Linked DNA regions of Homo sapiens: regions 2 and 3 are each reported to be linked to region 1. The links are microRNA targets in miRTarBase. Many come from high-throughput screens and were not tested one by one. Region 1 holds a microRNA gene; each other region holds the end of a gene's coding sequence.
What was found. Region 1 holds the annotated microRNA hsa-miR-3124-3p (ACUUUCCUCACUCCCGUGAAGU, at 851-872, opposite strand). A microRNA usually pairs through its seed, bases 2 to 8, with sites in the 3' UTR of a target mRNA and lowers its output. Matches are read on the target gene's strand: a 7mer-m8 pairs with bases 2 to 8, a 7mer-A1 pairs with bases 2 to 7 and ends in A, and an 8mer does both.

Region 2: the mRNA of ALDH18A1 is a reported target of hsa-miR-3124-3p. Seed matches in the 3' UTR shown: 8mer at 2,415-2,422.
Region 3: the mRNA of TAL2 is a reported target of hsa-miR-3124-3p. The part of its 3' UTR that is shown has no 7-base or 8-base seed match.

The regions. Positions count from the first base shown.
Region 1 is chr1:248,824,180-248,827,289 of GRCh38, reverse strand. MIR3124 (microRNA 3124) reads right to left here and starts at 913; the gene lies at 847-913. SH3BP5L (SH3 binding domain protein 5 like) reads left to right here and starts at 1,375. Exons shown (of 7, transcript NM_030645.3): 1 at 1,375-1,455; 2 at 1,924-2,537. The coding sequence starts at 2,355. RefSeq lists enhancers at 684-783, 854-903, 479-1,029, 1,014-1,273, 1,030-1,581 and 1 more.
Region 2 is chr10:95,603,914-95,606,997 of GRCh38, forward strand. ALDH18A1 (aldehyde dehydrogenase 18 family member A1) reads right to left here. Exons shown (of 18, transcript NM_002860.4): 18 at 2,028-3,030. The coding sequence ends at 2,849. Among named protein-coding and RNA genes, the nearest start is that of SORBS1, 44 kb to the left of the region's middle.
Region 3 is chr9:105,662,652-105,665,735 of GRCh38, reverse strand. It overlaps TAL2 (TAL bHLH transcription factor 2), which reads right to left. Exons shown (of 1, transcript NM_005421.3): 1 at 2,612-3,084. The coding sequence ends at 2,913. Among named protein-coding and RNA genes, the nearest start is that of TAL2, 1.7 kb to the right of the region's middle.

The DNA.
Region 1 (3,110 bases):
GGCATGCACCTGTAATCCCAGCTACTCGGGAGGCTGAGGCAGGAGAATCTCTTGTACTCGGGGGTGGGGGTGGGGCGGAGGTTGCAGTGAGCCAAGATCGCGCCATTGCACTCCAGCCTGGGCAACAAGAGTTAAACTCCGTCTCAAAATAAATAAATACATAAAAAAGCACTCTAACTTCTATAGCTGCTAGCTAGCAGACACATCTGGCCGAATCGCATCTATGCCAATCAAATCTGTAATTTTTCACTTCTCCAACACTATTGAGCCCTGATCACCTTCCTTCCTTCATTCTCCCTTTGAAATGCCCAGTCACTTCTGTACAAATCGGAACAGAGGTCAGTTCTTTTCCTTTCTGTAAGTAGTTACTGAAAAAAGTCTTTTTCACTGCTTCAATGTCTAGCTGGGTTGTCTTTGACAGGATCCAAAAAGGAGGGGAATTCAGCCCATTTGCCTTTTCCATCTGCAGGGCAAAGTTTTGAGTTGACTCTGAGGAAGTTACGCCTTTTGTAAAAACAAAACATCCAACCCTGAATGAAGCCCTTCCCCTTAGGCCTAGGCCCTCCCCTCACCAAGCGACACCTAGAGGTGACAAGCAGGCGCTCGCTCAGGGACCTAGGTAACGATACACAATGCCATGTAACAAACTCCTGCTCATCGAGGGCATCTGACCCTGGGTGCACGAGTGAATTAACTGAGTTAATGTTGACTAAGTTCCTGGTTAGTATTCACGGAGCAATTGGTGACCCCACCAAAACGTCGTTCAAGGTGCAAGGTCCAGAGGCCTCGAGGAGTGGGATTTACACATCGGAGCCGTCCGCTCAGACGCCGTTAGTGGAGGGTTCCGCCGACTTCACGGGAGTGAGGAAAGTCACTTTTGGAAATCGACTTTGCCTTCGCCCGCGAAGCCCGCCAGCGTCCGGACTCGAGTTGCCCCCGGAGCCACTGCCGGAAGTTTACCAGCTCACTTTCGGCGTCGCGCCCGCCTCCGTGGAGCAGGCCGGAAGTGGCTTTCCGGCAGCCGCCGCCGCAGCTCCGTAAAGCAAGATGGCACTACTCACTCTGAGGCTATTATCTCCGTTTTATATCTAGTATTCCTCTTCTCACCAGTTACTCTCGATTTCCGTCCCGCGCCCTAATTTTCTTCAGCACCACATTCTCATGTTTTTCTTTCATTCAGCCTTGGTGGAGTATGGTCTGGAGGCAACCTACGGCTAGCCTGAGCAACGTGGGGCACCATTTTGTACGGAAACTGAAGGCAGGGCGGGGGAGTGTGAGGCCTCCCGAGGAGGCCCGGCTTGAGAGAGAGCGTGGGAGGGAGAGCGTTGTTCACCGATGATGTATTTCCGCTTCTGGTCTGCCTGGTCGTTTTTGGTTGGATCGGCTTGTTGCGGGGAGGGAGGGGGGGAGATTGTTTGCAGCATAGAAGCTCCGCGGACGGGAAGGTAAACTGAGGTAAGGCTGTGCGGGGGGCTTTTGCGCATGGCTGGGTAGAATGGACGGGAGTAGGGTCCTTGGGATTGCGGAAGAGTGTGGAATTGGAGACGGGAGGCTTAGATGTCTCGGGTTGGACAGAGAAGGTGGGGTGGGGCTCGGGGTTACAAGGTGAATCGCAAAGCCGGGCTGGGGTGGAGTGGGACGAGCGGGAGACCACAGGAGATGGAGGAGAGCCTAGGGGTGCAGAGGAAAGTCTCGAAGGCGCTGGTTGAGGAGGGCCTGGGTCGAGAGGAGCTGGGACGGGGGAAGAGTAGAATCTAAAGTCCTTGAGGGCTAAGGAGAGAAGTTGAGGTAGGGACTGGTCGGAATACATGGGTGGGGGCGTGGTGAGAGTGTAGTTTTTGGGAGGCTGTAGAGTTGGAAGGGGCTGGTGGCTGCGGTTTTGATGCTGACATGACCATATACTTGGCCTTTGTTTCTCTGCAGCTCCCCAGAGACGCTCATCCTACAGCCTCAGCTCGGGCCCAGCCTTCTCTCTCCAGCTGCCACCACAGCCTGGAGGCGCCTGCCTCCACCCTCCCGAATGGTGCTCCTCCTAGCAGGCCTCGGTCCAGGATCCAAGCCCCCTTTGCCCCCTGCCTTGGAGCTGTTGCTCCGGGTTTGTCACAGTGGACTCCCTGTGGCGGGAAGGGAAGAACTTTTGCACAGACAAGGCTTCAGCTCTAGGAACCCCACTGACAACTTGAATCTCAACCTCTAACCTAGTGTGAGGTTCTTCCTGTGCCCACCTTTTCTGCCTTTTGAGAAGAGAAACTCTTCTCCTGGCCATCTAGAGCCCAGGAAGCCCCAAGCTGGGGCCCTGGTCCCAGCATGTCAGTCCTCTCTTGTGCATAGGGCTCTGCCCTCCCCCTGTCAGCATGGCTGAGCTCAGACAGGTTCCAGGAGGGCGGGAGACCCCACAGGGGGAGCTGCGGCCTGAAGTTGTAGAGGATGAAGTCCCTAGGAGCCCAGTCGCAGAAGAGCCTGGAGGAGGTGGAAGCAGCAGCAGTGAGGCCAAATTGTCCCCAAGAGAGGAGGAAGAACTGGATCCTAGAATACAGGTGAGAGCACTGAGAGCAGGGAGAGAAGGAGAGCCCAGATTCCAGCCTCCCTGAAGAGTGTTGGATGAATGAGGGCTTAGACTTACTCTGTCCCCAGTCTGCTGGGGCAGGAAAGGAGAACAAGTTTGTCAACAAATCATTGCAGGGTAATGTAACAAGTTCCAAAAGAGTTGTGTGTCTGAAGTGCTGATGGAGTGCAGAGAAAGGCCTGGCCTTAGTGCTTGGGAGGCATTGCTGAAAGCTTCACTGAAGGAGCAAAGTGTCACTTGGCAGTAGATGGAGGAGGCACACTTTAGGTCAGTGGAGGGTAGGTGTGTTGTACTTCTTTCCAGATAAGCAGAGGGGCTGCCACCTTAGTTAGGGATGCTGTGTGAGAGGAGATGACTTTGATACTGGGGGACAGTTTTGAGGCTGAGTGAGAGAATCTTTTCCCCTTTCTCACCTTCTCAGCGGTACCTTCCAGGGATGTGCGGCCCACATTGCTCTGATAATGTGTTTCACCCTTGTAAACAGTGAGACCTTTCCAGTGTTATAAAGGTAGCATCAACTTTAGATCTATAAAGAAACCCCATA
Region 2 (3,084 bases), not on the chromosome of region 1:
TCTTTGCCCCACCCTCAGAAATTTTGGCTCAGCAGGTCTGGGTGCGGGAATCTACAGTTTTAGCTAGGCCCTGTGGTCATTCTGTTACAATGATCCTTGAACCACAGTTTGAAGTAGTCTGAGGCCCACATATACAGCAAATAGCAGAGGGGTGTGTGTGTGTGTGTGTGTGAAGAGCGGGTCAGTGATGTTGGGTTTTGCTTTCAATGCCTACCAAAGACTTGGCCAGCTGTGGATGTCAGATATAAAAAACACCTTGTTCAGCTAATTTGCAATTTAGTGATAAAGAGCTTCCCACACCTCCATCTAACTAGAAAGCTTATCCAAGCTCCCATTTCATGAGTGTGGAAACTGAGGCAAAAATGTTTAAGTAGTTACCCAAGGTCACAATGCCAGTCAGTGACAGAGCTGGAAAAAAAATTCTGGAGTCCCAGTTCAGTGCTCCCTCCATTACACTGGGCTGCAAATAGCACCATGAAACTTTAGTGTCTGCTCACCTCTCCCTCCCATTTCCTCTGTCAGGCAGTGCAGTGGGACATTGTGGCTACCTCTCTGGCCGCCATCCCAGCCCTCTTTTATTCCCCAGCAGCCCTACTGTTTAGGTGAATGAATCCTGCTCTCAGCTCCATGAATCAATTAGGATAATCTTCTTCCCCTATCCGATTTTCCTCCTCCCTTACCAATAGAACCCTTACTTTCTTGGAGCTGCAATGTGCCCAAATAAAAAAGCTACACCTCCCAGATCCCTTTTAGAGAGGGTAGGCCATGAGCTAGTTTTGGTCAAGCACTGGGCAGGGGGGTCTTCCTGGAATGTCACTTAGAAGGGGCAGCTGGCAGACACTCCTCTGCCTATGGTTTTTCCTTCTTCCTGCTGGCTGGAATGCAGTCCTGATGGTTGGAATGCCACTACCATGTGGACAAGAGCCTTACCCTAGGACAGAAGAGAATAAATCAAAAGCAGCCCCAGTGCCTGATGGCCTTCATGGAGGCATTAAGTCAGCCTTGAAGCTGCCTACCTCCAGAGCTCTTTTTACATGAGAGAAACAGGAATGATCAAGTTCAAGCCCCAATTCTTTGAAGTTTCTGTGGCATGCAGTTCAACTCAATGTGTGCATTTATAGCAATGATTGATGCAGGCCAGTTTAATGAGTGAAGCTTGGGGTTTCTGTCTGATGATGATAGTGGTCTTTCTCAGGGCCCAGATGCAGGCCTGCCTTCTCAGTGGTCTTCCCCAAGGGCCCCAGCTCTCTTGGGCTGCCTTCTATTTAAGATTCCTGGGCATTTGTTGTCTGGTTGGGAGCTCATTGTGGTATTTGTGACAGTTTCAGGCAGGACTGTTTATAGCCTTTTCAGGCAAGCTATGCCAGAACTCCTCATCCAGAGGGCAGGGCAGTCAGGGTGACTTGCCAGACCATGTAAGGGTCTGGAGGAGAGGCAGGCTGTGCAGCCAGCCTGGGAACATGTTCCACATGACACCATCATTCTTGTGCTGGTAAAACATCCTCAGAGGAAAAGCAGCAGCATCGTAAGCGAGTGCTTATTTCTTTAGGAGGCCCCCATGAAATCTTTCAACTGCAGACTGTCAGGCACCAGGGGCCCTAAGGACAGGAGCTAGAGATGGAGGGAGAGTGGGGAGGGTCCGAGCTGTCAAGTGATCCTGAGGCAACAGGACTGGCAGGGAGGAGCTGGGGGGATGCAGTGAACTAAGGATGTCAGCTGGGGCTATGTGCCACCGCGGGAGCTCGCTCAGGTTGGACCCCACCAACTTCAGACCTTCACTGCACTTTTAGTCTTCAAGCTCTTGGGGCTTAATCTCCTGTTTTCCTTTCCTGTCTCTCCGTCTGAGTCCCTCTGTGGGGACTGCCTATGTTGCTTCCACCAACAAACACTGTTGAGGCAGATGTCTTGTCTCCCCAGACAGCTTCCAGAGAAGAGACCATGCCCACAAGCAGGGCACGAGGGTCACAAGAGAGGAAAAGGAAGGGGGTAACAACAATTAAGGGAGAAAACTTCAATCACGCACAGGCTTTTCATAAAAAACTTTATTTCTCAAAAAAGGGGGAAGAATCCAAAGTATTAAAATAATCCTCTAATTTTTGTTTTGGAGGAAAAGGGTAGGACGACAAAATAATTCATACAAAAATTTCAAGCATCACTGCTGTAGATATTCCTCCAGCTCAGTGGGGAACATCCTGAAACTTGCATCTCCTGCTGCAGCTTGGGTTCCAGCTGCATCACGGGGAACACAGCATCTCCTGGATGCAGGAAGCTGCAAGCATCTGGAATGCTTATTAATTTACCCCACAAATAAATACAAAAGGTCAATCTTCCCAGTGGAAATGATTCCATCGATTTTTGTGACTTTCTGATGAGAATGCTAAAAAGAAGAGTTGCCCCTTTTCTAAAATTCCAAATCTTTCCTTTTTGAAGATGACTACATGTGAAAGAAATAAAATGTGAAAAGATTTGTTAAGGATGACTGGCTCTAGTACCAACTAAATGCCAAGGGGGACTGTAAGTCACTGAGGTGACACAAAGCAGCCATGGGTTTTCCTCGCCTTTTTTATGGGGAAAATGCACCTTTCAATCCTAGAAGATAATTGGACTTGGCAAAGTCCCTATCGGTAGCAACTATTTTCTTACTTTAAAAAAAAAGGGTGAGCTGGGAGCCAGACTGTGCACATCAGCCAAGACTGCTATTGCCAAACGGAGCCCAGAAGCATCCAGGTACACTTTCCAACAGGCAGACCCTACCAGGAACTGGGAGACAAGAGCGGGCTCTCTCCTGAGATAAGACAAGTTTAACGTGAAGACCTTTTGGAAAATTCCCGGGTTTTCCTGGCTCTTTTCAGTTGGTGTTTCTCTGAGGAATAGGGAGGTTCTCATGAAGATATTTTAAACTTCCATGCTCTGAGAAATCTGAGACCACGTGGTCCTTCCCTCGCAGCAGCCACTTAGTAGTAAGCAGTCCCTCAAGTCCTACTGGTCCCCGGGCGTGGATTCTCGATGTACTGATTCCCACTTCAGCTCCTGTGAAAAAGCATGAATAAAAGATGTAGCTTTTCCCAGCCTCTGCTTCCTGTC
Region 3 (3,084 bases), not on the chromosome of region 1:
TTTTGAGTTAGCTTCCAGTCTCATGGATACCTTGTCAAGGTTTTGGTCCACAATTGACTATATTTTCTTTTTGGCAGACACCTTCTTTTTTTTCTCTTTCCTTCTTTCTTTTCTTTGAGACAGGTATCACTATGTTGCTCAGGCTGGCCTCAAACTCCTAATATCAAGCAGTCCTCCCGCCTCAGCCTCCCGAGTAGCTGGGAGTACAGGCACATGCCAACACACCTGACGTAACAGTCACTTTAACCAAACATGACTTGGTGTACAAAAATGCAAGCAGGCAAAAGAAATCATTTAGGAGGTGAAATACATAAATTAATGATTTAAAGTTTCATTTATTAATTATAGGATTATTTGCAAATTTCTTTAAATAATTTCCCCCTCACATAGTTTAATGAGAACTTGATCTCCTCATGACTTTTCAGGAGCACTCTGTTACATTTCAGCGGAAAGGCCCTCTTTGTCGAAGATCATGGCCCCCTTTGACACAGATCATGGCCCCAGCAGCAGAAAAGTGGACTCATCCTGGGTAGAGGGGCAAAATCCTATATCTAGGCAAAGAGATACTCTGTGCTTTCCTTGGCAACATGTTGAAACAAAGCTAATATAAAAATACCGTCAAAAGTGTTATTTTGATTTAATTTCAGATGAGAGAGTAAGTGATGTTAATTGACAACTGTCATCAAAACTTTGAAATGTACTATCACCTGGTAATTTGGGGGTAAGCTTGTGTCCACATAAGCTAGTGAGAAAAAAAAAAATGCACATTCAGGAAAACCATTTTGATCTCTTTTCTTATGTGTTTCCCTGGACTATGCTGGGTCCGTGGGGAAGTTTACCAAATACAGTTTAAATAAAGGGCCTAGAAGGAAATCTTACTGGTTCAAATAAATGCATTGTGTTACAAGTGTGAATGCTGTATAGAATTTAATGACATAATGACCTTTCTATTTCGGGAGAATGAGATTGTAAGAGTTTCATCCAGCTTTCTTCCAATCACCAGACCAAGGAGGCTCATTTCAACCTTTCACAAGTAAAACACCTTATTTCTGAGTGGCAGGAAATTTAAATTCCTCTGTTGTGTATATACTGGAAATCCCTAATCTCAAATCCATCAGTTTCCTACGTATGGTTTAGAAGGTTTTAAAACCAATGTACTGTCAAGAACTTTGGGGAAGGAAAATGTCCCAGAGATAATCAAATAACATTATTTGTATTCCAGGTTCAACTATAGGATTTATCTTTGACTCCAAGTATCATCAGGGTGGCATATGGTGATGGATTCTGCCAGATCCGTGCTATTTCACTGACTTGTTGGGTACCAGGCCTCCAAGCCTAAGACTAAGCTTGATCACCCTTGATCAAATACATCTCATTTTTCAAAACCAACTTTAAAATCTGTTCTGAGGGAAGCATATGCTACTCATTCATCTGAGATCTATTATGAGAAACTTTTTTCTTTTTGAGAAGGCTAATGTGCCATAGCAAAGAAGACAAATTACAAATTCATTAGTTCATTAGCGTCTGGTATTACATTTCTATTGTTTACTCTAAATGTTTTGTTTAAACTAAGCTCTCTGTTAAATGAGTCATTAAATGGTAATGTTTGGATTTTCATAATTATAATTGAATTTTACAGGTCTTGAATCAGCAGGAGTTCAGGCTGAGTGAAACGTTTTAATGCATGACATGTGAAGTGAAGGCTTTAGCTAACTTATTTCAGCTAACTGTTTTTCGTAAGAAAACTACGAGCCCTAACACATAAATTATCCAGTTGTTTCGTCTCACAGATATAATCCACTATTTGCCTTTAGAAGTCACATATGTACAAATGGCTCAGCACAAGTAGCACCTCACACTTCTACAGAGTTGAAAGGACACAGAACTGTTCCACATATCTCTGCTGCATTCCTGTAATCCCCACACCTTAGTGGGCGGGGGGCGGGGGGTGTCTTTTCTCCACAGATTTTTCCCGCAAGTCTCCCAGGTTGGTTTCTGCAGGGGTTATCTTTCTATTCATCAATCTTAAGATTTATTTTGTTCACCTTTGATCAAATGCATCTCATTTTTCAAAACCATCTTTAAAATCTGTTCTGAGGGAAGCATATGCTGCTACTCATTCATCTGAGATCCATTATGAGAAAACTTTTTTTGTTATTGTTGTTTTTGAGAGCGAGTCTTGCTCCGTTGCCCAGGCTGGAGTGCAGTGGCATGATCTTGGGTCACTGCAACCTCCCCCTCCCGGGTTCAAGCGATTCTCGTGCCTCAGCCTCCTGAGTATCTGGGATTACAGGTGCGCACTACCACACCTGGCTCATTTTTGTATTTGTAGTAGAGACGGAGTTTCACCATGTTGGCCAGGCTGGTCTCAAACTCCTGACCTCAGGTGATCTGCCCATCTCAGCCTCCCAAAGTGCTGGGATTACAGGCGTGAGCCACCGTGCCCGGCCCATCAATCTTAAGATTTATTTTGTTCACCCTTGATCAAATCTCATTTTTCAAAACAAACTTTAAAATATGTTCTGAAGGAAGCATATTCTACTTATTCATCTGAGATCCATTATGAGAAAACTTCTTTCTTATAACTGAAGACATTGAGTATAAACAGTGATTTTCAGCCTTTTTTTTTTTTTATTTAGAATTTTTTCTCCAAAAGTCTTATGCAGAACCTGGATTTAAAATAGGCAGAGGTAGGCCGCTCTACCTGACATCCCTGGGGGGTGGCGGCCCACAAGTGACATTCCTCATGGCTTCTTTCAGCTCCCTGCAGCTGTCTCTGAGCCACCTCCCAGGAAGCTAGAATTCATGCTTCACGAGTTATCATCAGGTCAACTCTGGAACATGCAAAAGTCTGTCCACAGGCAGTGATTTCTGGGCAAGTGCTGCCCTGGGAGATGACAGCCAGAGCCACACTAAGGAATGTGGTGGCTTGGACCAGGTGAAGGAACCTGGTAGTTCTCAAGCAGAGTTCTGTCCTCCAGGCCTGGCAGGTGGGGTCCTTGAGGGAAGAGCCCCAGAATGTTCCCCTGAGCAGCCACTCCCGTTTGTTGCAGGCTTTGCTCCCCCAAGACCTTGACCAAGAAG